Linked DNA regions of Homo sapiens: region 2 is linked to region 1. The links come from fine-mapping of genetic effects on gene expression. A gene starts in region 1. The other region holds a variant in brackets. All regions are shown on one strand. Distances are between the middles of the regions.

Region 1 (16,686 bases):
CTCTGACCCTCCCTAAACTGCTCCTAAGATCAGTGCTTGAGATATTTTGCAGACCCTGCGCTTGTTGGATCAGCTGGCACCACCCAGATTGATACACTTGATGATCTTGTGGCCCCCACCCAGGAACGGACTCAGGGCAAGGAGACAGCTTTGACTCCCTGTGATTTCATCTCTGACCTGACCAATCTGCACTCCTAGCTGACCAGCTTCCCCTGACCCACTAAGTTGTCCTTAAAAACTCTGATCCCTGAGTGCTGCTTGGGGAGATTGATTTGAGTAATAACGAAACTCTGCTCTCCTGCACAGCTGGCTCTGCGTGAATTACTCTTTCTCTCTTGCAATTCCCCTGTCTTGATAAACTGGCTCTGTCTAGGCAGCAGGCAAGGTGAACCCACTGGGTGGTTACAATGTCTGGTGAGGATTTCAACGAATGTAGATGTAATGTACAAGACAGCCATAACAGAAGAGGGGGAAGTTACAGGAATCTATGAAATAAATGAAAATATATCATATTTAAATTTGTAGGCTGCAGCTACATCAGTGCTTAGTGGAAATTTTCTGCCATTAGATACTTTATTAGAAGAAAGATCTCAAATCAATAACCAAACTTCCTTATGTAAAACTAGAAGAACAAGAACAAAAAGCAAGCAGTAAGAAGGAACTAAGAAAGATAAGAATAGATATCAATGAAATTGAAAACAGAAAAGAGAAAAATCAATAAAAGTTGGTTCTTTGAAAAGATCAATAGGATAAATCTCTATCTAGCAAGAGTGACACACAAAAAAAGTGTGAAGTCCAAATTACCAATATCAGGAAAGAAATAGGGGAAATCACTACATACCCTGCATACTTTAAAAAGATAATAAACAGCTTCACTCACATAAATTTGACAGCTTAGTTGAACAAGAATAATTTCTAAAACACACAAACTGCCAAAACTGAGCAAGATAAAATAGATAATTCAATAGTCTTGTGACTATTGTAAATCATTAATTCTCCGTTGAAAATTTTCTGAAAAAGAAATCTCCAGGCTCAAATAGTTTTGCTGGTAAATTCTACCAAACATATAAAGAAGGAATAAAACCAATTCCATGCAACTTCTAAAGAAATTAAATCAATAACAAATAACCTTTCAAAAAATAAAGCACCAGGCCCAGATGCCTTCACTGGTAAATTTTACAAACACTTAAGGAAGAGTTAAGTTTGAATTTAGGTCAATTTTCCAAAATCTCTTTTAGAAAATAGTAAAGAAAAGACTTCCCAACTAATTTTATGAGGTCAGCATAAAATATCAAAATTAGACAAAGACAATAGACAGTAGGCCAGGCACTGTGACTCACCCCTGTAATCCCAGCACTTTGGGAGGCTGAGGCGGGTGGACCACAAGGTCAGGAGATCGAGACCATCCTGGCTAACACGGTGAAACCCCGTCTCTACTAAAAATACACACACACACACACAAACATTAGCCAGGCGTGGTGGCGGGTGCCTGTAGTCCCAGCTACTCAGGAGGCCGAGGCAGGAGAATGGCATGAACCCGGGAGGTGGAGCTTGCAGTGAGCTGAGATCACGCCACTGCACTCCAGCCTGGGTGACAGAGCGAGACTCCATCTCAAATAAAAAAAAAAACTCCTTCCCCCTCAGAGTGTTATATTTGTTACAATTTATGGAGCTACACTGACACATCATTATCACCAAAGAACATAGTATATATTAGGGCTTACTCTTGCTGTTGTACATTTTATGGGTTTGAATAAATGTATATGGTATGTATCCACTATTACAGTATCATGGAAAGTGGTTTCACTGACCTAAAAAATCCTTTATTCTATGCCTATTCATCCCTTCCTCCCTACTAACTTCTAGCAACCACTGATCTTTTTACTGTGTCTATAGTTGTACCTTTTCCAGAATGTAATATATTTGGGATTATATAATATGCAGACTTTTTAGATTGGCTTCTTTCACTGAGTAATATGCATTTAAGTTTCCTCCATGTCTTTTTATGACTTGTTAGTTCATTTCTTTTCCATGCTGAATAATATTCCATTCTCTGGCTCGAACACAGTTCACATATCCATTTTCCTACTGAAGGATATCGTGGTTGCTTCCAAGTTTTGGCAATTGTGAATAAAACTGCTATAAACATATGAGGGCAGGTTTCTGTGTTAAAAAAGTTAAAACATAAATTTTAAACTTCTTTCGGCAAATACCAAGGAGAACTGAATTGCATGCTGAATTACATGGTAAGAGTCTGTATATGTAGTAGTATAAGGAACCATCAAACTGACTTCCAAAGTTGCTGTACCATTCTGCATTTCCACCAGCAATGAATCAGAGTTCCTGTTGCTCCATATCCTACTCAGCATTTGGTGTTGTCAGTGTTCTGGATGTTGGCCATCCTAATAGGTGTATAGTGGTATCTCATTGTTTTCTTTTTATTTCCCCAATGACATATGATTTGGAGCATCTTTTCATATGCTTTTTTGCCATCTGTATATCTTTTTTGGTGAGGTATCTCTTAAGGTCTTTGGTCCAGTTTTTGGTCGGATTGTTAGTATTCATATTATTGAGTTTTAAGGTTTTTTTGTACATTTGGATAGCAGTCTTTTGGCAGAGGTGTCTTCTCATTCTTTTAACATTGTCTTTCTCAGAGAAAATTTTTAAAGTTTTAATTATGTCCAGCTTATCAGTTTCTTTCACGGATCATGAAACGTCTTCAGTGTTGTATCTAAAATGTCATTGCCATACTCAAGGTTATCTAGATTTTCTCCTATGATACCTTCTAGGAGCTTTATAGTTTTGTGTCACACATTAGGTCTGTAATCCATTTTGAGTTCATTTTTGTGAAAAGCGTAAGGTCTGTTTCTAGATGCATTTTTTCATATGTGGCTCTCCAGTTTTTCCAGCACCATTTGTTGAGAAGATTATTTTTTATCCATTGTATCGCCTTTGCCCCTTGTCAAAGATCAGTTGACTATTTATGTGGGTGCCAGGCTTTTATCATATCGACTCTGCCATCTTTTCCTCCTGCTCATGCTATCATGGATTGATGCCTTTTGCCCACAAAGCCTCTTAAAGTTGTGTAATCAGAGTTGGGTATGGTGGCATGCACCTACAGTCCCAGCTCCTGGGGAGGCTAAGGTGGGAGGATCCTTTGAGCCCAGGAATTAGAGGCTGCAGTGCTTTATGATCATACCTGTGAAGAGCCACTGCACTCCAGCCTGGGAATTAGCGAGAAACCGCCTCTTAAAAAAGTTTCACTGGCTGGGCCCGGTGGCTCACGCCTGTAATCCCAGCACTTTGGGAGGCCAAGACGGGCGGATCATGAGGTCAGGAGATTGAGACCATCCTGGCTAACATGGTGAAACCCCATCTCTACTAAAAATACAAAAAATTAGCTGGGCATGGTGGCGGATGCCTGTAGTCCTAGCTACCCGGGAGGCTGAGGCAGGAGAATGGCGAGAACCCGGGAGGTGGAGCTTGCAGTAAGCCAAGATGGTGCCACTGAACTCCAGCCTGGGTGACAGAGCGAGACTGTCTCAAAAAAAAAAAAAAGTTTCATCATCATTGCTGATGGTAACTTTCCTGAAAACACTAATATTTGTGCCAAAGATGCTATCTCTTAATTCTTCCAAGGAAGTGAGCTTTAGGTGCTCAGGTCAATGAATAAATGAATAGAATGGTTAGTCAGGGTCCCAGCAAGAAAGAAAATCTAACTCAGATATCTCAAGAGAGTATAACCAAAAGACTATTTACAGCAGCATGGCCAGGTTAGGGCCACCAAAAAGTGAGGAACCCAGAAATTAACTTCAGTAGGCAGCCTTTTCCACCCTAGATCTGAGGAAGCAAAGGCAGAAAATAATGTTACCATAGCCCACTAAGTGCTAGGGCCAGGGTGGGAGTCACATAAGAGAAACATGTAATGATCCAGGAGGTCAGATGCTCCTCATTGACTGTGAATTTTATTAGGAAAACAGCATCATTTGTAGGTTGCAGGTTTAAAGTTTTTACTACATCCTATAGAGCAGCAGTGCAACCTTACAGAATATTATCTCCCTGCTGCCACCTTAACTGAGTGGGCAATGGGCCATCCCATTGTCTATCATACTAGCTGCTTCCTGAAGTGGGGTCTGGTGACAACACCAGTGAAGTCCAAGGGCATGCCTGAGCCCACAGCCACACTTCTGCTGTAAAATAAGTTCCTTGGTAGAAGGTGATATTATATAGATTGTAACAGAGAAGGTTGGAAAAGGGTCTTGGGTCAAATGGAAAAAATAGTGCAATGACCTTCTTCTCAGCCCCAGCTATCCTGTCCCACGGGCCCTCAGACAGAGTTGCTTGTGTCAGGCTGCAAGCCTAAAGTAGCTACTCCAGCTCTTGACCCTGACCCCTCTAATCATAGGGCTAAAACCCCACCCAAGTGGTCAAAATGACATTTCAGCTACCTTTTCCACAGAATTTACTTCTAACCCTTCTCTCAAATCCCCAAGCCTTCACCCAAATAATTAAACAACGAAATGAACTCCTCTTTAAACCAGGCATGGTATAATGTGCCTGTAGTCCCAGCCACTTGGGAGGCTAAGGAAAGAGGATCTTTTGAGCCCAGGAGTTTGAGTCCAGCCTGGGAAACATAGTGAAACCCTATCTCTAACGACAACAACAACAACAACAAAAAGTAATCTCTTCCTTGACTGCATACCAAAGCTCCTGTGCATATCAACCGAGGCAAGGAGAAGCAGTACCTGGAGAGGGTGGGGGTTGTTTCGGAACCTCAGCTCAGCCAGGGGCAATGGAGCTGGGGGCGGAGGTGGCAATGCTGTATGACTTCTCTCACTACCAACTCCTAAACTCTAGCCACAGACGCCTGTTACACTTGGACCCAAGCAGTCCTACATAAGCCATGAGTCACAGTGCTCATGTTGGTACCTGTTCACAGAATGTGAGTTCTGCAAGCAGCATTTCTCTTATCTTCATTACTGATGCCGAAGGATGGAGAAAAGTCAAAGGCCTGAATCTGTTTTTTTCTCTCATCTGTTGTCTATCTCTGGGGCTGCCCACTGTAGGCATGTTACTGACAGCAACATGGGATGGGCCTTCTCCATCACATCTCCAAGTGGTTTCGCCATTTCAATTTCTTCCTACATACTGGGCTTGCTCATTGCTCATCCCAAACTTCAGGTATTAAGAATATTGCCATAGACATTCCTTTATGAGGTGATCATATATTTGGATATGGTAAAAATAATTAATACTAGAAGATGGATCCACAGGGAAAAGGGCAGTCAGTTATGTCTGAAACCTAAGAAAGGATTTGGCTGTGTTTTCCAGGGATGTAAGGATAATAGTATATAGAAGAGAACACCTAGGCCAAATTGTTGGTTAGAACACCTAGGCCATCTCCTTGGTTCATTTTTTTAGTGTCTTGCTATCTGTCCTGAATCTTGGAACCACTGCTCTAAAAGAGGTCTGAAAAATTTTGCCTTCAAGGCTCACCTTTACATAAAATTCACTATGGCTGAAACGAAACTCATATTCCTTCTTGTTTCTGTCTTGGGTTTTCTCTCAGATTGGTAGTGCCGAGGCTTGAAACATTAGAGAAATGTTCGATGTTTTTCTTTCCCTTTTCTTTCCCCTCTTCTTCACTAAGCATGGGACAGTTATTCATTGTGTCTTTTAAGTACATCTCTTTATTGCCAGCCCCCATGTGGGGATGTCTTGGCAGTTGTGTATGTTGGCCTGAACCTCAGGAGAAAAATCTCAGCCAGAGATGTAAATTCGGGAGGCCGAGGCAGGGGGATTGCTTGAGCCCAGCAGTTTGAGACCAGCAACATAGCAAGACCCCATCTCTAAAAAAATGTTTTAAAAATTAGTTAGGCGTGGTGATGCATGCCTGCAGTTCCAGCTACTCAAAGGCTGAGGTAGGAGGATTACTTCTTGAGCTCAGAAGTTAGAGACCACCCTGGGCAGCATAGCAATATCCCATCTCTTAAAAAAAAAGAAAAGAAAAGAAAAGAAAAAGAAAGAGAGGAAATGGCCAAGAGATGGAGGAAATCCAAGAGAAAATGATATTGCCAAAGTACGTCAACAGTATTACAGGTTGCAAGAGATAGCCCTGGATTTATTGATGAAGTTTTTGTTTTTGTATTTATCTTGGTGTGAATAGCACAGTGCAATGGTTCTCACACTTTTTGGTTGTACAAATTATAGTATACTCTTAAAAATCATTGAGGACCTGAAAGAGCTTTTGATTGTAAGAACCCCAAAGAGATTACATCTCTTATTTATCCTACTAGAAATTAAAACTGAGAAAATTTCAAACATGTTAATTTACTTAAAAACAATAATAAACCTATTACCAGTTAATAGAAATGTTTATGAAAATAACTACTTTAAAACAGAACAAAATTGAGAACAGTGGCAATGTTTTACATTTTAGGAAATCCCTTTAATATCTGGCTTAATATCATAGAAAACCAGTAAGTTCACATATCTTGTTCTGCCTTCAATCTGTTTTGCTATTACATGTTATTAATATATAGCCTCTGGAAAACTCCATTATATTATCATCAGAGAATGTGCATGAAAAAATAACATATTAACTATGAAAATAGTTTGATCTTGCAACCCCCCTGAAAGGTTTTCAGGGATTTCTAGGGATCTCGGGACCCCAGGGCAGGAGAGCTTGACAATACTGTGAACCTCATAAATAAGATCTTTTTGTCATAATGAAAAGTAAGCTAGATAGACTTGACTGAAGTTTCAAGGGCTATCTGATGAGAAGTGGAGGTTGTTTCATTGACATTATTCTCTAAGGTTAGGAATGGACTCTACAACATTCATTCAATTAATTCATTCAGCATACATTTATTTAGCACATATTATGTGCCATGAAGTACTCTAGATACTGAAGACATACCAGTAGACAAAACAAAATATCCTTGCCTTCATGAGACTTCTAATAAAGTAGTAAAATATATAGTGTATCAGAGAGTGGTTAAATCCTATGCAGAAAAACAATGTAAAGAGGTCTAGAGAATGCTGGAGGGATTTGCATATTTCAGTAGAATGGACAGGGAAGGCCTCTTTAAGAATGCAACATTTGAGCGAAGACCTGAAGGAGGAGAAGCCATTGGGATATCTTTTGAAAGGGCTTTTCCAGCTATTTAACAAATTAATTTCTTAACATTTGAAATTTTATTTATATGTAGTCTTTAATCAAATATCCATTGTATATGACATTAGCTGCAGGTATAAGGAAATAAGACAAGAGAACTGAGGTTTATTGAGTGCCTGCCATGTACCAGGCACTGTGCTAAGTATTATGAATGAGGTTTGGTACCTTCACTAAGATTTACAACTTAATGCAGGAGGCAAGGTGTAGACATACACTTCCTGCAGTATGGGTGTAGCAGTTCTTATGAGGAAGGAGAGTTGACTTGAAGTTGCACCGCCAGAAGTAATGCACCTGACCTACCTGAAGTCTACGCCTCCCTTTCAAGATGAATTAGGGTGCAGAGGGTGCTCTCCACTATAACAGAGGGGAAGCCAGCAAGATAATACCTGATCACACCTTTTATAGAGCACTTTGGTTAACAACATGTCTTCACAAATTAACTCACTTAACCTTCATAACAATAAGAAGCAGATGTTCTAAGAAGTGTTACTGTGTCTCTCAGAGATGGAGAAAGGCTAAGAAAGCTGGGTAGTATGACAAGGCAGTTATAAGGTAGAGCTGGACCTAAATTTAAGATAATCTGCTTCAAGCACAGTGCTTTTCCCACCGCAGTGCAGCTGTTATGAGCAGCTGCCGAAATAAAACAGCTTGATATTCTCCTGACTGAGTCCTCCCACTGACTCAAAAGGAGGGTTAGGTTGAGGCTGGGGCGGAGCTAGACCTCAAGAAGAAGCCAACAAAGTCACACACAGCGCTCCCCACCTGCGCTTGCGCAGGGGAGGAACACGCAGTCCGGAAAAACGCCGGGGATTCTGGGTCGCGCAGCCGTGGAGCTACCTCAAGGCGGAACTGGGGAGTCCAGGGCTTCGGCAGCCTGAACACCCGGTGTGAAAGGAAGGTGGCAGACGTGGAGCGGCGCGCATGCGCAGCAGCTCACTCTGCTGAAGGGCTGAGAGGCGCACCCGGGCGGCCAGCTGGGCTCGGAGCGGAACGGGGTCAGGATGGACGAGGACGTGCTAACCACCCTGAAGATCCTCATCATCGGCGAGAGTGGGGTGGGCAAGTCCAGGTGAGGCGGAGGTGCGGGTCGTGACGAGGGTGGCTGGGCTCTTTCTGCCCCGGTGGCTGCTGTCTCCTGGGCCGCGACGGGAACTGTAAACTGCAGCGGCGGGCTCGGGCCGGCTCCGCTCGCGCCCTCCTCGGCCTCTGGGCCGCGCTCTCCCGCGACGTTTGCTTTCCTCTCCCCACCCGCGCCTGCCTGGTTCCCGGCCTTTGCCAGGCCCAAGTTCTCTGGGTCGCTCTCCCTCCTGTAGCGCCGAGAAAACACCATTCCGAGGGCCGCCGCTCGGCCGGCAGGTTTGCTGCGCGGAGCTCAGGGCGTGGCGGGCTGGTTTGGGCCCGAATCCGGCCGGGGGCGCCTTGCCTCGAACCTCTCGGGGTTCAGGCTGCCTGCCACCCCGAGACCCGGGAGACATAGCTTTCCCACTTGAGGGTTTCTGTGGGGCCTTCTCTAAATACATAATGTCCTCGGGAAGTTTCGTGACGCCTTAGGTCCCATTCCTGGCCTGTTTGGGCGCAGCTTAATGTCGATTCTTTTACTTTTTTATTAGTCGGCTGTGAAAGAACTGGATCTTGTGACTGCTGGAAAATTTCGCTTTAGTGTAAGGTCCGAGTGCTTCAGCCGTGGGCCACCTTTGAAAATAAAATGTAATTGTTATTTCTCATTTTGCCACATCCTGTGGAGACAGAAGATTAGTGTTGTGCTTTCATTTTTTACTTTTTCCTTGGGGAAAATAATATTGACAGTGGAGTTGAGTATAAGGTAAGACATGGATCTAGGTGGATGTTGCTAGAGGGCTGTGATTTCATCCAGGTCTTGGAAGAGAGTTCTCCAGCTGATGTCATTCTTGCCATCTGATTATGAGTAGGTTATGTTCAAGGCCGTCCTGATCCTTAAACCACATTTGCACTCCAGGGGCTGTAATCAGTTTCATATTTTAGCTATACCTTCTGATACACGTATCTTTCAAATAATTTTTTGTATTTCATAAATTGAAATAGCCTTAATTCTACAAACTAGAATGAAAGCTCTCCTCAAATAACTTGTAAAAGTCACTTCATAAAGTCTTACTTTTTAAAAGCTTCTTCAGAATTTGAAAGCTTATGTAATATATTCTGATATTATTTACTTATTTATTTATTTATTTTTTGAGACGGAGTCTCGCTCTGTTGCCAGGCTGGAGTGCAGTGGCGCGATCTCGGGTCACTGCAACCTCCGCCTCCCGGGTTCAAGCGATTCTCCTGCTTCAGCCTCCCGAGTAGCTGGGACTACAGGCGCGCACTATCATGCCCAGCTAACTTTTGTACTGTTAGTAGAGATGGGGTTTCACCATGTTGGCCAGGATGGTCTCCATCTTTTGACCTCGTGACCCGCCCACCTCGGCCTCCCAAAGTGCTAGGATTACAGGCGTGAGCCACCAGTTTGACAACACATTTTCATAGTGTTCCTCATGTAATGTCCTCTGTGTCTACTGGAATGAAGGATTTGCACATACCAAGGAATAGAATAATGAAATACTATGAGTTAGCAAACCAGCATGATTTGTCTGTGTGTGTGTAAAAGGCATGAGTAAAATTATTTACATGATCATCTATTATTGCACATACATATTTGAGTGTTAAAAAGTTAAACGTTGTCTTAATAGGAATTTCACAGCCTTGTGATCTTTCTTTTTCTTTTCTCCTTTTTTCCTTGAGATATCGTTCTCATTTAAGTTCAGGCATATGAAATTAGTGTTTTTGAAGTCAAGAATGGTTGGTTGTCATTTCATGTAGTTCAACCCAATACATGGTTGGTTAGCACTTTTTCTAAATGTATTGCATGGATGACAAGTTAGGGTATGTTAAAATTTTCTGGAAGGTTAACTGGAGTATATAAACAAAATTCCTCTGCTCTACCCGCTGTTTTTTTGAGACAGGGTCTTATTCTGTCACCCAGACTGGAGTGCAGTGGCATGATCATAGCTCACTGCAGTCTCAATCTCCTGGGCTCAAGTGATCCTCCCACCTCAGCCTTTTGAGTAGCTGGACTATAGGCACGAGTCACCATGTCTGACTAGTGTTTTTTTATTTTTTATAGAGAGGAGGACTCACTGTGTTGCCCAGGCTGTCTCGAACTCCTGAGCTCAACAGATCCTCCTGCCTTGACCTCCCAAAGTGCTAGGAACATAAGCATGAGCCACCACAACCGGCCCTACTTCTAAAATTTTTTTCATAGATGGGATTTTCCTATGTTGCCCAGGTGGTCTCCAACACACAGGCTCAAGCCAAACTCCTGCCTCATACTCCTAAAGTGCTGGGATTACAGACACAAGGCATGACACCCAACCGAGGTTCTCCTTGTAGAGTAAGGCCTGTTAAGTGGATTTATCAGTCTCCCTAGTTCATGCCACCGAAACAAAGAAACAAATTTACCGTGGGCCTAATCTGTTTTAAACTTTTTCCTCAATACGTAGCAATGGATTATCAACTGCTCGATGCAGGATTTTGTCACTTTATTTCTTTTGTGAAAGGATTACATATAGTGAGAAAGTTGTCTTATTTGTCTAGCTAGATATACATTATTGGCCTGTGTGATATGCTGTGGAAAACAATCTTAAACACTCTGGATAAGATGAGAATAAATGACTCCACTGAAATAGAAGTCTATGCCTTTTAAAGTGAATTAGTACAAAAACATTTGCTGTGGATATGATCTTAAAGGATTGTTTTAACCAAGTTTGTTTCTATTTCATTACAGAGCTGGAGCTAGTGGAAGTGAGATAGCACTTGTGCTGTTGGGGAAAACAAAGGATATGTTTAATCCGAATTAGTGGATTACTTTCTAGTGATTTCATAGTGTTAGAGTCTAAAGGGTATGTGATAGTAGTCAGGAGATCAGGATTATGAAACTGGGGCTGCCACTTGTGTGACCTTGTGTGTGATACTTGAATGCTGTAGGCCTTCATTTCAAAAGCGAGGGGGTTGGAATAGAAACCTCTCAGACCCTAAATGTGTAAGACTCCAATTCTGTGGCTAGGCCTGGTAAGGTAAAGAGTAGCAGAATATATCAAGAACTGGAAGGGATTAGAGAGACCTATTATCTAAATTGCTGTCCCTCCTTTGCCCCTTGCCTTCCCTTTTTTTTTTTTTTTTGGTGAATTTCATATGTAAATTTAAAAAATGCAGATTAGTTATAATCACACTCTGTTTATTATAAATTTGGTCACATCTAAGTGCCATGGTGGTAGTTACTCCTTCCATCTCTACTTCTGCATGGGAAACATTTTGCTCCTTTAACTTTGAAAATATGAGGGTGTAAATATACAATACTATAAGAATGGTGCTTCTGCCAGGTGCAGTGGCTCATCCTGTAATCCTAGCTACTCGGGAGGCTGAGACAGGAGGATCTCTTGAGGCCAGGAGTCCGAGACCAGCTTGGGCAACATAACGAGACCATGCCTCTAAAAAAATAAAAATAAAAAAATTAGCCGGCCATGGTGATGCACACCTGTCATGCCAGTTACTTGGGGGGCTAAGGTGGGAGGATTAGTGAGCTGTGATTCTGCCACTGCATTCCAGCCTGGGTGACAGAGTGAGACCCTCTCTCTTAAAAAAAAAAAAAAAAAAGTGTGCTTCTTAATTATTTTGAGATTGTCAGTTCTTTTCAAAATCTAATAGAGAAATGGACTCTCTGTCCCTTTCAAAGTCTAATAGAGAAATGGACTCTCTGCCTAGAAAAATGCACACATAGAATTTAGAATACTTTTTGGGCTACCAGGGTACCCCTGTCTAAGATCTGATGTATACCCAGAGCCTGTATTAAAATTTGTTGCTTCACACCATGCCACCAATTCCCTGCCTCTCCTTACAAAGTACTGTTAATAACAAAGGCCATTTAAGGATTAGCAATTATGAGAGAAAAACCTCTGGCTTTGTGTCTGCACATTGCCATATGTTCAATAAATAATACCCAATATCATCATTATTGTATTATTATTATGATATTATTACAACTAGTCTACAAGGTAATCTTATGTTTTTGTAGTAATATTTTCTGTGGTGACCACGTGTAGATATTATGTATCTTTTCTTAAATTATGGGTAACTGAGTATGTTGGGAGAGAAGAAAAATTTTATAGGTAGTCTTTAAGAGTCTTACTAGTATTGTTACCTATGTTCCAAGTAACTAAATATAGTCAAGATGTTAAGTAGATAAATCTAGAATTTGACTCTTCTTTTTTACTTTGATTTTATGATGCTGGTTTTATGGTAAACACAAGAAAACAAAACCAAGTAAGGGAGAGTTAATCGTTCAAATATATTTAATGACACTGGGTTTGGAAACTACCAGGAGGCCATTATGTTTTGCAGAAACTCTATGGACAAAACATACCTCTACCAGCAATAATCACAACCTATAGAAAGAGTCATAAGATTTTTCTATAATTTAGATATCTGATGGCTGTTTCTTTGATTTTATTCATGCAAACAGGTCAATTAGGAGAGTCTTATACTTCAGAAGTTAACATGAGGGAAGATTGAATGACTTTAAAATCAAGGGCTTTAACAAAAGCTTAGATTTTATTTTTGAAGAGTTTCTAATAACTGACACTTCTGCTTCATAGTAAGTAAAATAATTCTGGAAGATGTAAAATCTTAGAGTACCCTTCTAATCTGGTGTCTTTTGCTTTTATCCTTTCTTTCTAGTTTCTTACCATTTCCTAGGTTTAGTCCTTTGTTCTCTCTTGCCATAACCATGGCGGTTGTCTTCCATTGATTTTCTTCCATTTTTTGTTAGTATTAACTTTTCAAAACAAAGAGCAGTACTTGTCTTAACTTTCTTTAAAAGCCTCCAGTAGCCTCCAGTTGCCTACTTGGTTTTACACACTCTACCTAGTGTTTGCCCGAGTCTATCTACTCTGTCCTGTGATCTTTCTTTTAACCTCTCTTTTTACTGTATCTTCTCTTAGGTAGTAGCCGTACTGCGTGTTACAGAATGCTCGGCTTTGATATATTTCTGGTTTTGCTTGAATTCAGAGTGGATTACACAATCAGATTTTTTAAAGCTAGTTTGTTGCATTCTAAGAGACTTTATTTTTTCCCTTTTCATCTATGTCAGTTAAAGCATGACATGCTGCTAATATCATTTTCTCAGAAGGACATACCAGAACAGTTAAAAAACAACTACAACAAAAACCCCCACCTTTTGTACTTGGGGGATTGTGTAGGAGAGCACGGGGAATATATTTCATAGTAAACTACTTTGCTCTTGGGATTTTTAAATTGCCTTTCTGGTAATTTAATTTTTCTGTGTATACCTGCTCTGAGGCAGTATTCCTAGGAACAGGCCTACATCAGTTATTTTTATCTGCATCTAATAATTTGTGACCAAATAATCATGAACACATTTATCATATGATTAGAAAATTCAAGTTCCCAACCTGTCTTTTTAATATCTCTTTCAGCCTGCTCTTGAGGTTCACAGATGATACGTTTGATCCAGAACTTGCAGCAACAATAGGTAAGCCTGTGTTTAAAAATTCTATAGAAATGGCCAGTATTTTCTTGCCTTTGGCCTTTTTAATCTAAATCCTTCTACCTTCCTCTCACCACCCCACTGCCTCCATGTCTGTTGAAATCTTATTTGTCCTTCAAGACTTAATTTTGGTATCATTAAATCTTTGAAGCCTTTCTAGATCTTACCAAGAGAAAATAACTTCCTTATCTGTTGTCTCATGATACTTTATTAAAACTGCTAATGTGATTATCTGTACACACATTTCTCTCCTATACTATGGATTGTCTTTTATTTTGTAATATACAACAGTTATTTGAATACTTATTGTATGCCAGGGACTGCTACTAAGAGGAGGGGTTATAATAGTGAATAACAAACTTGGTCTCTGTCATCGTGGACCTAACAGAGTGTGTTAATTTTGTATGTTCAGCATTTGCTACAGTGTTTGACGTGTATTCTTATCTTCACATATGTATTGATACTAGTTATTAAGGATTGTTAGGAGCAATGATACTTAAATGCCTTTTAAGGATAAGATTTAGATCGCCTGAAAGTGGTTAGTCACACTAACTTATGAGAATATATGAGAAGATAGAGGTAAGTATTTTGGTATCATGTGTTTAGACTGCAGACAACGTAAAGGGATGAAGAGACCACTTGGAATAGTTGAAAGGTAGCTGAGCTGAGTCAGAGCTAGATAATAGTCTTGGTTGACTTTGCCTTGAATTACATGTAATCTTGATGAAGTCACTTAACTTACTAACTTCATCTGTAAATTGGGAGGTTTTGTTAAAATTTCATGATCTGATGAGGAGAATATAGTAAAGATGATCCTAGCATTATTGTTAGGGAAAATAAAGAGTTTCTGTTAACTGGCTTTATTTGTTTTCATTGATTGTATGTCTATTTTTAAAATTTTATTGTGAAACAATTTCAGACTCAAAGATTTGTAAAAATAGCACAAATAATTCTTATGTATCCTATTAAATTACTCCAGATGTTAATGTTTGTCACATTTGCTTTATCATTCTCTCTCTACACACAGTATTCTTTTTTAAAAAAATGAGAGTAGATTGTAGACATGATGTCTTCAACGTCTGCATACTTTAATGTGTATTTCTTAAATGAACATAGATACATTTTATTGTCTATACACAGATTTTATCAGTTGTCCCATTAATGTCCCATATAGCAAAAGACAAATAATTGTTTCGGGTCCAGGATCATACACTGATTTTAGTTATTTCTCTTTAGCCTCTTTTATTTCATTTAATTAATGAATTAATTTATTTTCGAGACAGAGTCTAGCTCTGTCGCTCAGGCTGAGTGCAGTGGCACCAACTCAGCTCAGTGCAACCTCCACTTTTCAGGTTCAAGTGATCCTCCTGCCTCAGCCACCCAAGTAGCTGGGACTACAGGCACATGCCACTGCGCCTGGCTAATTTTTTTTTGTATTTTTGATAGAGACGGGGTTTACCATGTTGGCCAGGCTGGTCTTGAGCTCCTGACCTCAAGTGATCTACCCACCTCGGCCTCCCAAAGTACTGGGATTGCAGGTGTGAGCCACCGCGTCGAGCCTCTTCAGCCTCTTTTAATCAGCAATTCTTCAGTCTTTATTTGCCTTTTCAGGGCCTTGACATTTTTGAAGAGTAAATAATTATTTTGTAGAATGTCTCTCAATTTGTGTATGTCCAGTATGTCCTTAACGGTTAGATTCAGGTTATGCAGTTTTGGCAGCAATTCCACAGAAGTGTTTTTCAGAACATAGTGTCAGTGAAGTTATTATTTTTCCCTTCATAACTAATATATTTCTTGTAGAGAGATACATTGAGACTGTATAGGTATCCTCCTTCTTACACTTTTTGCCCTCCTGTTGTAGCATCCATTGATAATTCTTGCCTGTGACAAGTGATAAGGACAGTATATGATCTTTTCATTCCAACTGTGATGGTTATCAAATGGGGATTTTTTTAAAATGCCATCACTCTGTCTATGTATCTTGTTTGGAATTCTGTAAGTAAGAGCTCTTTTTTTTTCTTTTTTTGTGAGGCAGTGTCTCACTGTGTTGCCCAGGCTGGCCTGAGACTCCTGGGCTCAAGTGATCCTCCTGCCTCAGCCTCCCAAGTAGCTGGAACTACAGCCATGTACCACCATGCCCAGCTCAGGAGGAGCTCATGTTTGTTTGTTTCTTTTTCTTCATATGAACTCATGGTGCCTCTAAATTTTCAATAAATTAGGCATTACTTAGCTTTTGCATGATATTAAGATTTACAGATTTACTCTTATTTGTGTCATAGGAAAGGGAATCATTTAAAACACGAATTCAAAATCCATTGTAATTTGGCTTTGTTGTATTATAATAATAATTATTATTATTTAATTTTATTTATTTATTTTTAGACACAGTCTTGCTCTGTTGCCCAGGCTGGAGTGAAGTGGCACAACCTTGGCTCACTGCAGCCTCCACCTCCCCATTCAAGTGATTCTGGTGCCTCAGCCTCCTGTGTAGCTGGGACTACAGGCATGCACCACCACACCTGGCTAATTTTTGTATTTTTAGTAGAGATGGGTTTTGCTATGTTGGCCAGTCTGGTCTTGAACTCCTGGCCTCAAGTGATCCACCCACCTTGGGCCTCCCAAAGTGTTGAGATTATAGGTGTGAGCCACTGTGCCCATACTGGTGTATTATTTACTCCTATAAAAAATTACTTAGTAGTAAAACCTTATTTTGGTCAGAACCTGCCTGAGTACGTATTGGTATTGGCTAGCCAGGAGGAGAGCAGTAGCAACTGGCAGGAAAATAAACTTGCCTAAAGTTAAAATTTTACTGAAGGAATGAACATACATATAATATTAACTGTCTTCATTACAAACCCAAATGGAATTTGGGGACTTGTGGCATGACAAATCGTGGGTTGTCTTTATTACTAAAAAGGCTTTGTCTTCTGCA
Region 2 (16,686 bases), 58 kb after region 1:
TGTTTTCAAAAACCAAGATTTTATTTAAAAACTTTAAAATAAATTTTAAATACTTTTTATTTTAAAATTTCATCTTTTTTTTAAAAAAAATCTTTTTTTGAGCTAATTATAGATCCGTGAGAAGTTACAAAGATAATACAGAGCATTCCCATGTACCCTTGATCCAATTTTCCCAATGGTTATGGCTTACATATCAAAACTAGGAGGTCAACCTTAGTACAAGGCATGCATGTACTTCTGGGCCATTTGATCACATGTGTGGATTAGTGTAGTCACCACCACAATCAAGATACGGAACAGGCTCATCCCCACAAACGTCTCTCTTGTTCTGTCCCTTTACAGTCATGCTTCCTCCTCCTCTTACTTTCCCTAACCTTTGGAAACTACTAATTTGTTCTCCAGATAGATAATTTTGTCATTTCAAAATTATCATATAAATGGAATCATATAGTATGTGATTTTTAAAATTATTTTTTTCTTTTTAGAGACAGGATCTTGTCTGTCACCCAGGCTGGCGTGCAGTGGTGTGATCATAGCTCACTGCAGCCTTGAATTTCTGGGCTCAAGTGATCCTCCATCTTCAACCTCCTGAGTAGCTATGACTACAGGTGCATGCCACCATGCCCAACTAATTAAAATTTTGTTTTAGAGACAGGGTCTTGCTATTTTGCCTAGGCTGGTCTCGAACTCCTGGCCTTAAGTGATTGGCCTCTCGAAGTGTTAGGATTACAGATGTGAGCCAGTGTGCCCAGCCAGCATTCGATCTTTTAAGATTAGCTTTTTCCACTTGGCATAATGCTCATGATATTAATGCAAGTTGTCGGGCATATCAACAACTTGTTTTTTATTGCTCAGTAGTATTTCAAGGCATGTATGTTCCACAGATAGATTTAATCATTCACCTGTCATAGGACACTTTGATTGTTTTCTGTTCTTGACTATTACAAATAAAGCTGCTATGAACAATTGTGTACAGATACTGTGTGGCCAGAAGTGTGATTGGTTGGTCAATATCCTTGATTTTTCATTCTCTATGATTTTCTTTTGATTTATCGTAATTTTTAGAAAGTTCATTAGTTGGCTTACTTCATTTATTGTTAGTTTTTCTTTTTAGTAATAGAAGCATTTAAGATATTTCCTACTGTAGTATAGAGTTTACCTATGCCTAGATATTTTTATATCAAGTATTCTTTTTATTCGTAATATCGGTGTTTTTTTGTTTTTTGTTTTTTTGAGACAGGGTCTCACTCTGTTGTTTAGGCTGAATGCAATGGCACAATTATGGCTCACTACAGCCTCTACCTTCCGGGCTCAAGTGATCTCCCATCTCAGCCTCCCGAATAGCTGGGCTTACAGTCTTGTGCCACCACACCTGGCTAATTTTTAATTTTTTGTAGAGATGAGGTTTCACCATGTTGTCCAGGCTGGTTTCAAACTCCTGGTCCTAAGCAATCCTCCTGCCTTGACCTCCCAAAGTGCTGGGATTCCAAACATGAGCCATCTTGCCCAGACTGTAATATCAGTTTTAAGTACCTCTTTGGATAGGAACTATTTTGAAGAGTATGCCTTAATTTCATATTATTCTGCCTTTAGGCTATTATTTTCCTTCTTGTTGTAAACTTCTAGTTTATAATCCAATTATGGTTAGAAAACGTGAGACAAAATCTCTCTATTTTTTGAAATTCATTAAGGTTTTCTTCGTGGCCAAGAATTCAGTTTGTTTTTTTTTTTCTGACTGGCTTGTTAATATTTTGTGATTACTTATTTTAGACTTATAGTTGGATAATACAGCGCGGCTAAGGGCAAGACCAGTTCATTGGACATGCTGGTCTATAAAACCGCCTGACTCTGATTCGAAGCTGCAATGATGTTGGAGTATGTTGGGTAGCCCAGTTTGTGGCATCTAAAATTTTTCGAAGTAATAGAGAGGTGTGATATGAAGAAGGAGTGAAAAGTACTTAGCATTCAAGTTGGAGAAGATGACGACCAGGAAGAAATACGATAACAGAAAGAAAAAACACTGTTATTTACTGTTTTGTAAGTGCTAGGTCCCATGCTTGGCTTTTACTCCTATTAATCATTTAAACCTTCGCAAAAGTCCAGTGAGTAAGTGTGACAGTTTTTATTTTACAGAGACGGAAACAGGAATTTAGAAAGATTAAAGAACTTTTCCAAGGTCACAAAGCTAACAAATAGAGTTGGAATTTTGTCTGAATTTTTTTTTTTTTTTTTTTTGGGTGGGACGGAGTCTCGCTCTGTCACCCAGGCTGGAGTGCAGTGGTGCAATCTCAGCTCACTATAACCTCCACCTCCCGGGTTCAAGCAATTCTTCTGCCTCAGCCTTCTGAGTAGCTGGGACTACAGGTGCCCACCACCACCCCCCGCTAATTTTTGTATTTTTAGTAGAGATGGGGTTTTGCCATGTTGGCCAGGCTGGTCTCGAACTCCTGACCTCAGGTGATCCACCCGCCTCGGTCTCCCAAAGTGCTGGGATTCCAGGTGTGAGCCACCGCGCCCGGCCTTGACTGATTTTTAAAGCTACTTCATACATATAAGAAGTTTAATTTATAGGATTTGTGGAATACAACGTTTTATACAGATATGCGTATTAAGTAAAACACAGATTATTCACATCTTCTATAACATTGTAACTTTGTGTACTTTGTCAAATTCTGAAAGAGTTGTATTAAGGTTATTATCATGACAGATGATTTTATCACATTCTTATAGTTTTGGAATTTTTAGCTTTATGTTATTTAGTTCATGAAGAAATACAATGTGTATATTCTTTATCATTGCATCTTTTGCCACTACATAATATTCCCTCTTTTCCTTGTTTAATTAGTTTCAGCCTTGAATTGTGTCTAATACGATAATCTTACAATCATGTCTTTTTTATTTCATTTTTAATAAAATTTTCATCTTTATAAAAGAATATAGGTTACGTAGATACATTGTAAAGAGTAATATGATAAACACCCATTGAAGTCCTACTGTGTGTGTCTGTGTGTGTGTGTGCGCATCTATGCACATTTATGTGGTATAACCTATTATTTTATAACTTATTTTTGGAGGTTCCTTAAGTTTCTATGTAAACTCACCGTGGTGAAGAAATTGAAAGCAGACATTTTACTTTCAGATTTTCTCTTCCAACTTTCTAAATATTTGAAGGACATGTGAAATACAAATATGGAAATTCAGATTTGTTTTTAAACTTTACTAAGATTTGTTGAAGTGTGAGCCCAGAGTACAGAGCTGGGGTGGGATCAAAAGTAGGCGAACAAATTTGTAAATAACTTGCTTTTATCTACAAATTTCCTGGGGGACAGTAGTACCTGCTTAAAGCATTAAAAACAAACAAACAAAAACCATGGAAATGCCAAAACTCACCAAGTTTCAAATGATGAAGATGCGATTATTAGAAATCCCATTCTGTCTCCAGTGAAGAATATCATTCATAAAAATTACATTTTACACTTTGAGGTAATTTTTTCTAGATCAAAATCCACACAATGGCACTTCTACAAAAACACCCAACACGGTTTTTCTCTGCGAGTAAGATATAAAAGCTCCTTGGAAATGAATTTATAATTTTATTTTAGTTCTTGCGCTTGCCCATGTCTTCTTCTTCATTATTTTGAAGAATTGAGACAAGGTCTCACTTTTGTCGGCCAGGCTGGAGTGCAATGGCACAATCATAGCTCACTGCAGCCTTGACCTCCCGCATTTTTTTTTTTTTTTTTTTTGTAGAGCCGAGGTCTTGCTATGTTGCCCAGAATGATATTGAACTCCCAGCCTTAAGGGATTCTCCCACCTTGGACTTCTCAAGTGTTGGTATTACAGGCATGAAACACTGCACCAAGCTAGAAATACTTGCCCATTTCTATTGCTCGGGTCACGTGGCTTAAGATAGAACTTGAAAGTTGAGAGACGGCGGAGCGTGGTGGCTCACCCCTGTAATCCTGCACTTTGGGAGGCCGACGCGGGCAGATCCTTGAGGTCAGGAGTTTGAGACCAGCCTGGCCAACATGGCGAAACCCCGTCTCTACTAAAAATACAAAAATTAGCCGGGCGTAGTGGCGTGCGCCTGTAGTCCCAGCTACTCCGGAGGCTGAGGCAGGAGAATCGCTTGAACTCGGGAAGCGGAGGTTGCGGTGACCTGAGATCGCGCCACTGCACTCCCGCCTGGGCGACAGAGCGATACACCGTCTCAAACAAACAAACAAAACAAAAAAAAGTTGAGAGACAATAATACAAAAAACAAGAAGGAAAGATCTTTTGATTTTCAGTGAGGATGTTGCAGGGAAGGTGGAAAAGGAGCATCAAGACCCTTTTAAATTTTGTTATTCTCTAAATTTTGCAATTTAGCTATTAGCTTTGTAAAGTGTACATTCAGGGCAGAATTGTAGCCTGTCGGTGTTAGGTTATTTCTCTGCAGTCAGTTTGTGGAACATAATTTGACTGATGATAGATCTAAATCCACGCAGTAATCACTCAAAATGAGATGATATTTATTTCATATGCATGTGCTATATAATACTATGGTTATCAAAAATTGAATTAGGAGAATTGCGCCCAACGAGAATGGGCTTGTCTATGTGAGATTCATGTGGTTGTTATGCTTTCTTTTTAATAGTCCAACAAAAGAGAAAAGGCAAGATATAAATGAGTGATTCCGGAATCCATGCACCTAGAAAATGATTGTTTTGTCTATCTAGATTGGTTTTCTTTTGCATGTGAATTTCCAATTGTTCCAGCAACATTTGTTGAAAAGACTTTCTTTGCTTCATTGCATTACCTTTATTTTGACAAAGATCATTTGGCTATTAGAAACCCACGCGCTTGGAAAATGAGATCTCTCAGTTCTCCATGAGGTGGCAGCAGCTCCTCAGTAACATGAGAGACCCTGTGGTGAAGGTCAAGTTCAAAGACGCCTTAGGCACTGTCCAGCTGAGAATTTTCACAGGCTGTACTTTCTTTGGCCAGGTTTCCTCTGTGACTTTGTTTCTTTTATTTTCTTTTTGAGAAAATTCAGCAACAAATCACCTTTTGATTATATCTGGGCCTTCCTGTTGTAAGATGGACTGCTTATACTGGTCAACAGACAGATTTCACAGCAGTCCTGGGGCCAAATTATAGTTTAGCAGCCACAGAGATTGACTTAGCTGGAGGTGGAGGACATGGAAGCATAACCGATCTTGCAATTTTGGAGGAGAGAATTGCTTCCTTTCTATAGCATACATTTATCTTTTTATAGAGAAGTTTTAGGGGGTTGAGTAGAGGCATTACAGATAAAATGAGGATGCTACCAGTGTTTTATAAAACTGAGCCAATTTAGGGTTTTAAGATTACTTATTTATATATTTTTATATTTTTCCTTTAAAACCATTTTAGAGATTATACTGTGTTTCCTTTTGTGAGAGAGAAAACTGTTTTCTGGAAGCACTCAGTTAAAATAAAGAATTTAAAATTGCGCTTCATTTTCCATCAAACTTTTAAAACTAAATTGTTTGATGATTTTGACTCTAATATATTGAATACATTTAATTCTAATAGGCTTCCTTCTCCAAATGTTTCAAATTATAAGACAATCCTTTCATTGTATTCTTCATCAGAACCTGGCACTGTCCCTCTTTCTCTGCCTTTCTTTGCTTAAATTACGCTATTCTGGATGAGTAATGATAGACATACTTGATCTAAGTATATGTCTGTAATGTTAAAGTCATTTTTAGAACGTTCAGAAGCCCTTTTTCTGCTAACATTCTTTTTTTTTTTTTTTTTTTGAGACGGAGTCTTGCTCTTTCACCAGGCTGCAGTGCAGTGGCGCGATCTCAGCTCACTGCCACCTCTGCCTCCCGGGTTCAAGCGGTTCTCCTGCCTCAGCCTCCCGAGTAGCTGGGACTACAGGTGTGCGCCACCACTCCCAGCTAATTTTTGTGTTTTTAGTCGAGACAGGGTTTCACCATGTTGGCCAGGATGGTCTCAATCTCTTGACCTACTGATCCGCCTGCCTCGCCTCCCAAAGTGCTGGGATTACAGGCATGAGCCACCGTGCCTGGCCTCTGCTAACATTATTGATCACACTTACCACTTCAAAAATCTTGGTTCTAGTGATAGTCTACATTTTTATTGTTGTTGTTTCTATTTTCTTAATTTTTCTCCTAGAGTGATTAATTCCATTCTGTACTTTTTCACAAATAGACTGTTTTTAGAGTAGTTTCTTGTTTACAGCAAAATTGATCAGGAAGAACAGAATTCCCATATATCCTCTGCCATCACACATGCACAGCCTCTCCATTATCAACAACCTACACCAGAGAAGTGCCTTTGTTACCATCAATGAACCTATAGAGATGCGTGATTATCAACAAAGTCCATAGTTTACATTAGAGTTCACTCTCGGTGTTGTACATTCTGTGAGTTTTGACAAGTGTTCAATGACATGTATCTACCATTGTGGTATCATACAGAGTAGTTTTACTGCCCTAAAATTCTCTGTGGGCTGGGCGTGGTGGCTCACGCCTGTAATCCCAGAACTTTGGGAGGCTGAGGCAGGCAGATCACCCGAGGTCAGGAGTTCGAAACCAGCCTGACCAACAAGGTGAAACCCTGTCTCTACTAAAGATACAAAATTAGCCGGGCATGGTGGTGGGGGCCTGTAATCCCAGCTACTCAGGAGGCTGAGGCAGGAGAATCGCTTGAACCCAGGAGGCAGAGGTTTCAGTGAGCTGAGATTGTGCCATTGCAGTCCAGCCAGGGCAACAAGAATGAAACTCCATCTCAAAAAAAAAATTATCTGTGTCTATTCATCCCACCCTCTCCTTTAAGACCTGGCAATCACTGATTATATATATATATATATATATATATATATATATGTGTATATATATATATATATATATGTGTATATATATATATGTGTGTGTGTGTGTGTGTGTGTGTATATATATATATATATATATATATATATATATATATATATATATATGTATATATATATTTTTTTGAGACAGAGTCTTGCTCTGTCACCAGGCTGAAGTGCAGTGGCAAGATCTCGGCTCACTACAACCTCCGCCTCCCAGGTTCAAGCCATTCTCCTACCTCAGTGTCCTGAGTAGCTGGGACTACAGGCATACCCCACCACGCCTGGCTAATTTTTGTTTTTTTTTTTTTTTTTGGTAGAGGCAGGGTTTCACCAGGTTGGCCAGGATGCCTTCGATCTCCTGACCTCATGATCCGCCCACCTTGGCCTCCCAAAGTGCTGGGATTATAGGCATGAGCCACCATGCCTGGCCAATCACTGATATTTTTATCATATCCATAGTTTTGCCTTTTCCTGAATGTTGTATAATTGAAATCATTACAATATGTAGGATTTTCAGATTGGCTTATTTCACTTAGTAATATGCACTAAGTTTCCCCCATGTCTTTTAGTGACTTAAATCATTCACTTCTATTTTAGCACTGAAGAACATTTTATTCTCTGTCTATACCCATTTGTATTTCTGCTCATCTACTGAGGGACATCTTATTTGCTTCCAAGTTTTGGCAATCATAAATAAAGCTGTCATGAACTTGTGCATACAGGTTTTTGCATGGATGTAAGTTCTCAATTCATTTGGGAGAATCCCTGAGACTGCCAAGCTTTTACAAAGTGGCTTTTTGCATGCCCACTAGCAATGAATGCTAATTCCAGTTGCTTCACATCCTCACCAGCATATGATGTTGTCAGCATTTTGGGTTTTGGCAATTCAAATAGATGTGTCGTGTTAGCTTGTTGTTGTTTTAATTTGCAATTCTCTAGTGACATATGTTGTTGAGCATCTTTTTATATGCTTATTTACCATTCTTGTGTCTTCTTTGGTGAGTCGTCAGTTAAAGTCTTTTTTAGTTGGGTTATTTGCCTTCTTATTGTTGAGTTTTAAGAGTTCTTTGTGTATTTTGAATAACAGTTCTTTATCTGATAATGTCTTTTGCAAATATTATTTCCCAATCTGTAGCTTTTCTTTTTATTCTATTGACTTGTCTTCTGCAGAGAAGAAAATTTAATTTTAATGAAGTCCAGCTTACCAATTATTTCTTTCATGGATCATGCCTTAGGTATTGAATTTATAAAGTCGTCGCCATCCCAAGGTCATCTAGGTTTTCCCCTGTATTAGCTTCTAGAAGTTTTATAGTTTTGCATTTTACATTTAGGTTTATAATCCATTTTCAGTTAAGTTAGTTAGGGGTGTTATGTCTATCTAGATTGACTTTCTTTTGCATGTGGATTTCCAATTGTTCCAGCAACATTTCTTGAAAAGACTTTCTTTGCTTCATTGTATTGCCTTTATTCTTTTGTCAAAGATCAAAGTCTTCAAGTCAGATAGTGGCCATCCTCTGACTTTGTTCTTCAATATTGAGA[A/C]GGCCCTTCTGGGTCTTTTGCCTTTGGGATTTTGGAATTGTATTAGATTTATAGATCAAGTTAGAAAAACTGACATTTTGAAACCATTAATTTTTTTGTATCCATGAACATGGAATATCTCTCCATTTATTTTGTTCTTTGATTTCTTTCACAGAATTCTGTAGTTTCTCTCATATAGATATTATACAGATTTTGTTAGATTTACAGCTAAGTATTTCATTTTTGGTGGTGCTAATGTGAGTAATAATGTGTTTTTAATTTCAAATTCCACATGTTCCTTGCTGTTATATAGGAAAATGGTTGATATTTGGAAGGCAGCTCTGCTCACCACTATACCACTGAGACATGATTGACATTTGTATGTTAGCCTGTATCCTGTAACCTTGCTATAATTTCTTATTAGTTCTAGGCGGTTTTTTTTTTGTCAATTCATTCAGATTTTCTACATATACAATCATGTCATCTGAAAACAACCATAGTTTTATTTCTTCTTTCTCAATCTGTATACATTTTATTTCCTTTTCTGGTCTCATTGTATTAACTAGGACTACCAGTATGATGTTGAAAAGGAGTAGTGAGAGGAGAGCCTTACCTTTTTCATGATTTTAGTGGGAAAACTTCTAGTTTCTTGCTATTAACTATGATGTTAGCTGTAGGTTTTTGGAGATTTCTTCTTATCAAGTTGAGAAGTTTCCTTCTATTACTAGTTTTCTGAATGGTTTATCATGAATGCATGTAGGATTTTATTAAATGCTTTTTCTGCATCTATTTGTGTGATCATGTAATTTTTCTTCAGCCTATTGGTGTGATGGAATTACACTAATTAATTTTTGAATGTTGAAACTACCTTGCACACCTTAGATAAATCTCACTTGGTCATAGTGTGTAATCTTTTTATACATTGTTGCATTCTTTTTGTTAATATTTTATTGGGGATTTTTGTTCATGAGAGATATTGATCTGTAGTCTTCTTTCTTAATAATGTCTTCATCTAGTTTTCGTATTAAGGTAATGTTGGCCTCATAGAATGAGTTAGGAAATATTCCCTCTGCTTCTGTCTTTTGGAAGAGATTGTAGAAAATTGCCATAATTTCTTCCTCAATATTTGGTAGATTCACCAGTGAACCCATCTGGGTCTGGTGCTTCCTGTTTTGGAAGGTTATTAATTATTGATTTACTTTCTTTAATAGATATACGCCTAGTCAAAGTATTTCTTCTTTTGTGAGTTTTGTTAGATTGTGAAATTTCAAAGAAATGGGCCCATTTTTTAAAGTTATCACTTATACGTAAAGTTACATAAACATACATATATATATATATAAGCATAGATAATAAAAGACATTGTTTTTATTACTATTATTCTTATTTTGAGACAGAGTCTCACTCTGTTGCCTAGGCTGAAGTGCAGTGGTGTGATCATGGCTCACTGCAGCCTCAAGCTGCTGGGCTTAAGTGACACTCTTAGCCTCCCAAGTAGCTGAGGCCACAGACATATACCACCATACCCTTCAATTATTATTATTATTTTGAGGCAGGGTCTTGCTCTGTTGCCCAGCTGGAGTGCAATATTGTAATAATGGCTCACTGCAGCCTTGACCTCTGGGGCTCAAACAGTCCTCCTGCCTCAACCTCCTGAGTAGCACTACAGGTGCATACCACCATGCCAGGCTAATTTTGTGTTGTTGTAGAGACAGGGTCTCATTGTGTTGCCCAGACTGGTCCCAAACTCTTGGGTTCAAGAGATCCTCCCACCTCAGCCTTCCAAAGTGCTAGAATTACAGGTGTTAGCCACTGCACCCAGCCTCTATTATTATTTTGAACATTTATTGGTTAGAAAACTGAGTAATAAGAAAAGTAAAAGTTTTTGTCCAACCATATCTTATTCATTTTCCAGTGCTAATCTTTTCTTTATGTAGATCTGAGTTTCTGACCTGTATCAGTTTCCTCCTCTTTGAAGAACATGCTTCAACATTTCTTGCAAGGCAGGTCTACTGGCAACAAATTTGATTTTTGTTTGTTTGAGAAAGTTCATTTCTCCTTCACTTTTGAATAATTTCTCAGGGTACAGTATTCTAGGTTGGTGGCCTTTTATCTCAAAACTTTAAACACTTCCCTTCACTCTATTCTTGCTTGCCTACTTGCTGAGGAGACATCACATGTAATTCTTATCTTTGCTCCTCTAGAGATAAAGTGTTTTTTTTTCTTTTGCCTTCTTGAAACACTTTATCTTTGATTTTTCTTCAGTTTGAATATGATATGCCTACATGTAGGGTATGTGTGTGTGTGTGTCTGTGTGTGTGTGTGAGAGAGAAAGAGAGACAGAGAGAAAGAGAAAGAGAAAGAGAAAGAAAGAGAGAGAGAGATTTATCCTGCTTGGTGCCCTCTCAGCTTCCTGGATTTGTGGTTTGGTGTCTGACATTTATTTGAGCAAAATTCTCAATGATTATTGCTTCACTTAATCTCTTCTGTTCCTTTCTCACTTCTTCGTTTTCTGTTTTTCCAATTTGAATATTTCTATTGACATTTCCTCAAACTTAGTGATTCTATCCTCAGTCATATTCAGTCTACTAACAAGGTCATCAAAGGCTCTTCATTTCTCTTACAGTGTTTTTGATTTCTAGCATTTCTCTTTTTAAAAATTGTAGTAATAGCATTTAACATGAGACCTATTCTTTCAACAAACTTTTAAGTATTAGCTATAGACATTTAATTGTACAGCAGATGTCTGGAACTTATTCATCTTGTATAACTAAATCTTTATACCCAATGAATATCAACTCCCCATTTCCCCCTCCCCGCCGCCAGCCTCTGGCAACCAGTCTTCTTACTCTCTGTACGGGTTTGGCTTTGGCTATTTTTAGATACTTCATGTAAGTGGAACCACTTATATGAAGCATCTAAAAAAGTATTTGTTGTCCTGTGACTACCTTATTTCACATAGTGTAATGTCCTCCACATTCATCCATGTTGTCTCATACTGTAGGATTTCCTTCTTTTCTAAGGCTGAATAATACTTCATTGTTTGCATATATTTTCTTTATCCATTCATCTGTCAATGGACATTTAGATTATTTTCCACATCTTGGCATACATAAATAGAGTTCCTTATCCTTAGTTCAGGTCTTCGTTAAAACCTGAACTTCTCCATTACCACTGTAATCTGTAACATTAACATTCTCTAATGGATCTCTCTGAATCTGACCTTCCATCATTCAGTCTAACTATTACATTGTTAGTAGTGTATTTTTCTAAAAGGCAAAAATAATAATCCTTGGTAATAGATGAGTAGCTCATAAGAGGCTTAGTCCATTTTGTGCTGCTAAAACAGAATACCACAGACTGGGTAATTTATAATGAACAGACATTTATTGGCTTATAGTTCTGGAGGTCGAGAAGTCCAATATAAAGTACTAGCATCTGGTGACGGCCTTCTTATGCATCATAATGTGGTGGAATACATCATATGGATGAGAGAGACAGCAAGAGGGGACAAAACTCATCCTTTTATAAGAAACCCACTCCTAGGCTGGCGCAGTGGCTCATGCCTGTAATCCCAGCACTTTGGGAGGCTGAGGCAGGCAGATCACCTGAGGTCAGGAGTTCAAGACCAGCCCGGCCAACATGGTGAAACCTCATCTCTACGAAAAATACAAAAATTAGCCAGGCATGGTGGCATGCACCTGTAATTCCAGCTACTCAGGAGGATGAGGCAGGAGAATTGCTTGAACCCAGGAGGCGGAGGTTGCAGTGAGCTGAGGTCACACCACTGCATTCCAGCCTGGGCAACAGAGTGAGACTCCATCTAAAAAAAAAAAAGAAAAGAAAAAAAAGAAAAGAAAAGAAACCCACTCCTGTGATAATAAACCTACTCTCACAATAATGGCATTAATCCATTTATGAGGGCAGAGCTTTTACAAACTAAACACCTCTTAAAGGTCCCATCTCCCACCACCTCCACATTGGGGATCAAGTTTCCAATACATGAACTTTAGGGGACACATTCAAACCATGGCATAGGTTAATCTTTTACACAATTGAAATTCACTAGAAAGGTGAACAAACAAGAACATGGAATCCATAGTCAAGACAAACAAACGCTGAGATATTTGAATTACCAGACAAAATCTTGGAAGGAGCTATTATGGTCATCTTCAAAGACTTAAAGGGAAATGACCACAATGACTAAACAAACTTATAATTTTATTGGAGAAATGGATAAAAGAAATCAAATGGAAATTCCAGAAATGAAAAGTACTGTATCTGAAATGAAATGTTTTCTGGGTGGGTTTAGCCAGTAGACTAGAGATGGCAAAAGAAACTAGCATGAACTGAAGATGAGTGAACTGAAGGTAAAATCAAAAGCTAGAGAGAAAATTTTGAAAATAGCCAAAGGAACAAGGATACAGATGGTGTCTTATATCTCATTTGAGCAGTGGAGCCCAGAGATAATGGAACAACATATTAAATGTGTTGAGATGAAAAAAATTTGCTTGCCCAGAATATCATATCCATCTAGAATATCATTCAAAAGAGAATGAAGAAATTTTGTGATCAATGAAAGCTGAGAGATTTTTTTTTTTTTTTTTTTTTGCCAGCTCATCAACACTACAAATCTAAAGCTGAAAGCTCAGGGTACGGTAATGACAGATGGAAACTTCATTACAGAAAGCAATGAAGAACACCCAAGTGGTAAATATGTGGGTAAATATGGAATATCAGATATCTATTTTTATCTTACTTTAAAAAAAGAAAACTGTTTTTCAATAGCAAAATAACAGCTAGTGCTTATTGAGATATTTCAATGTTATTATGTCATTTCACACACATTAATCCACTTAATTCTCATAATAAACCTCTTTTATAGAACATTATCTCAACAGCTGCAAAATATGCATTCTTCTTTTTGTTTTTTTTAAAAACAAGGTCTTGCTCTGTTGCCTAGGCTAGATTGCAGTGGCATGATGATTGCTCACTGCAGTCTCAAACTCCTGGGCTCAAGCAATCCTCCTGCCTCAGCCTCCCAAGTAGCTAGGAATACAGGTGCGTACCACCATGCCAGACAATTTTTATTTTTTGTAGAGATGAGGTCTCACCATGTTGCCCACATTATTCTTAAAAGCATATGGAATGTTCACCAAAATGTATCATATCCTGAGCCATGAAACAAGTCTGAATACATTTCTAGTAATAAAATCTTACAGAGTATTTTTTCAGACTTTAACAGAATCAAAATAGAAATCAGTAACAAGAAAACTTCTTTATTCTTTTTATTTTATTTTAAGTTCTGGGATACATGTGCAGGACGTGCAAGTTTGTTAATAGGTAAATGTGTGCTATGGTGGTTTGCTGCACCTGTCAACCCCTCATCTAGGTATTAAGCCCAGCATGCATTAACTATTTTTCCTGGGGCTCTCTCTGGCCCTGCAACCGCCGGCAGGCCCCATTGTGTGTTGTTCCCCTCCCTGTGTCCATGTGCTCTCATTGTTCAGCTCCCACTTATAAGTGAGAACATGTAGTGAAAACTTCTTTATTCTCATCAAAAATTTCAGTAAGATGTATCTGCTATGAGTTTCTCCTCACAACTTCTGCTAGGGTTTCAGTGGACTTGTGTTCTCTATTTTCTTTGTCTCTTAACCTTTTCCCCATCACTTTATTACTTCTTATTTTGCACTGTATCCTGGAGGATCACTCAGCTTGCATTTCCAGGTCGCCACTTTAATCTTCACATATTTCCTTTCTGTATCTTAGCCCACAGATTGAGATTTATCTGTGGAGTTGGGGGATGACAATCATTTCTATTTTCCAACCACTCTGATCACTTTTTCAAAGAAACTTTTTCTTGTTGTGATAGCTTCTCCTTTCTCTGAGGATACTAATGATTATTTTGCAGTCTTCTCTTGTTTCCTTTGTAAATTCTGTTTCCTCATGTGTTAATTCTTTTTCACATTGTTATTTTCTCAGCTATCTGGTGATTCTTAGATGTGTGTTTATATTGATGAGGGAAGATTACCATTTCAGTACTTTTAAGTGAAAGGTATTCCCTCCGTAAGTTGAAAGTGCTTGGATTCCTGGAAGTGAATGTGGATTCCAAGGTTATACAGGGAGGGTCACAGAGGATGTGCATGAAGCTGAGCTTCCCTCTAGGGAAGTGGTACCTTGTCTTGTGGGTGCAGGTCTGCTATTTTTTTTTTTATCAGCTGCAATTCATGTGTGAAGTTACCTCATTTCTGTGGCCCCAGCGTTTTTGTCTCTGAATCTTTCAAATCAGGACTCGTAATTTGTTTAGAGGAATGTACTGTCAACATATTGAAAGAAAAAAGAACAACGTTTCCACATGGTCCCCTAGTTTGTAATCACAGAAACATGAACTTTGAGAACTGGAAGGGCTATCAAGAGTTGAGGGAATGGAGTCATAAGTCAGTAACTTCTCACCAGGGATGGAGACATGTGTTAGTTTCCTGTTGTTACCAAACAAGTAACCACAGACTTAGTGGCTTGAAACAACACAGATGTATTGTCTTATAGTTCAGGAAGTTAGAAGTTCTAAAATCAAGGTGTTGACAGGGCTGCATTTTTCTGGAATCTCAAGGGGAAGGTCTACTTCCTTGCTGTTGTGGGCTTCTAGAGGCCGCCCACATTCCTTGGCTAGGGTCTCTTCCTCCAGCTTCAAAACCAGCAGCACTGTCTTCAGATCTCTCTCTTCCTCTAATCTCTGCTTCTGTCATCACATCCCCTTCTCTGAGTAAGATCCTCCTGCCCCTCTCTTGCAAGGACCCTTGTGAATACATTGGCCCTATCCAGATAATCCAGGGTAATATCTCCATCTCGAGGTCCTTAACTGTATTAGTCTACTCTCACGCTGCTGATAAAGACATACCTGAGTAATTTATAAAGAAATACCTGGGTAATTTATAAAGTAATTTATAAAGACATACCTGGGTAATTTATAAAGAAAAAGAGGTTTAATGGACTCACAGTTCCACATGTCTGGGGAGGCCTCACAATCACGGCAGAAGGTGAAAGGCATGTCTTACATGGCAGCAGACAAGAGAATGAGAGAGTGCCAAGTGAAAAGGGAAACCGCTTATAAAATCATCAGATCTTGTGAGACTTACTCAGTACCACGAGAACAGTATGGGGGAAACCACCCCTGTGATTCAATTATCTCCCACGGGGTCCCTCCTACAACACGTGGGAATTATGGAAGCTACAGTTCAAGATGAGATTTGGGTGGGGACACAGCCAAACCAGATCCTTAACTAAATCGATTTTGCAAAATCCCTTTTGCCATGTGAGATTCACTGGTTCTGGGGATACAGATGTGACCATTTGGGGGAGACCATTATTCTGAGGTGTGTGTCTCTTTTTGAGCTGGTGGGGCACAGCAGTGGGTGGTCTCAGGAGCACTGAGGATGAGGCATCTTAGGTTTGAACATTAGAGTCTCTAATTGTTCCTCTACCCTTTCCCTGTTGGTCTTCCTACTTTCCCCTATCTCCATACTCTCACAATGATAAGCATTCTTACTGAGCCCGTACGTTCTCTTTTCCAGCTGGTCTTGGCTCATTCCTGCTCCTCCCTGCTAGTATCTCAAAGCCACCTTACAGGAATGTAAAAGCCACACTACCCAATTACTGCAACTCAAAGGATAAATGTCAACATCTATACAAAGTATTGTCAGAAAGAGTGTGAAAAAAAGGTAAGGTTCTTTGTGGAGTCTGTACAGGCCTGTAAAAATCCAATTTATGTACCAGAAATGACTACATATGTTATGCAATAGAAATACCTCTACCAAATCCTGACATGTATATGTGTTGGGCCTGCATTTAATCGAGGGTCGTCTCTTTAGATTATGATGTGAAATTCCCATTTGAGGTCTTTGATGGGAACCACATGGCAGAGCTTTGCTGCTTAGCTGTAGAGCGGGGCAGCCCCGCTGCTGCACAATGCATCCTGTGTAGCTTTCATGTTTGACAGATGGCCTGCTTTTCTGTGTATATTATCAGATGCCTCCTTCTCAAGCTGTAAAATCTGATGATAGAGCCCAAATTTAATATATTCAACCTGAGCTGTTGATAGAATTAAAAACTTATCAGCCAAAGATGTCATGTTTACTCAACATCAGAAACAGAGTACTTTTTAATGTTGTTTTTGTTGATCTGGCCAATATACTCTCCAAAACGTTGTGCTCTGAAGAAAGGGCAGAGAAGCAAAAGAACAGATAGAGGAGCAGTGGGAAGTGGTGTCAAGTCCTAGCAAGGTCATTCCATTGTGGAGGGAGGCC

Evidence for each region. PIP is the estimated chance that this variant, and not a neighbour inherited with it, causes the effect.
Region 2: its variant is fine-mapped to the expression of RAB18 in whole blood (INTERVAL, PIP 0.97).

The regions. Positions count from the first base shown.
Region 1 is chr10:27,496,192-27,512,877 of GRCh38, forward strand. It overlaps RAB18 (RAB18, member RAS oncogene family), which reads left to right and starts at 8,113. Exons shown (of 7, transcript NM_021252.5): 1 at 8,113-8,246; 2 at 13,684-13,739. The coding sequence starts at 8,179. LOC124902399 (a long non-coding RNA gene) reads left to right here and starts at 8,254. Exons shown (of 2, transcript XR_007062097.1): 1 at 8,254-8,533; 2 at 8,788-8,901. RefSeq lists enhancers at 7,809-8,078, 8,189-8,248.
Region 2 is chr10:27,553,833-27,570,518 of GRCh38, forward strand. LINC02680 (long intergenic non-protein coding RNA 2680) reads left to right here and starts at 12,355. Exons shown (of 3, transcript XR_007062094.1): 1 at 12,355-13,105; 2 at 15,955-16,101. The variant A/C (reference allele first, on the strand shown) is at 8,405.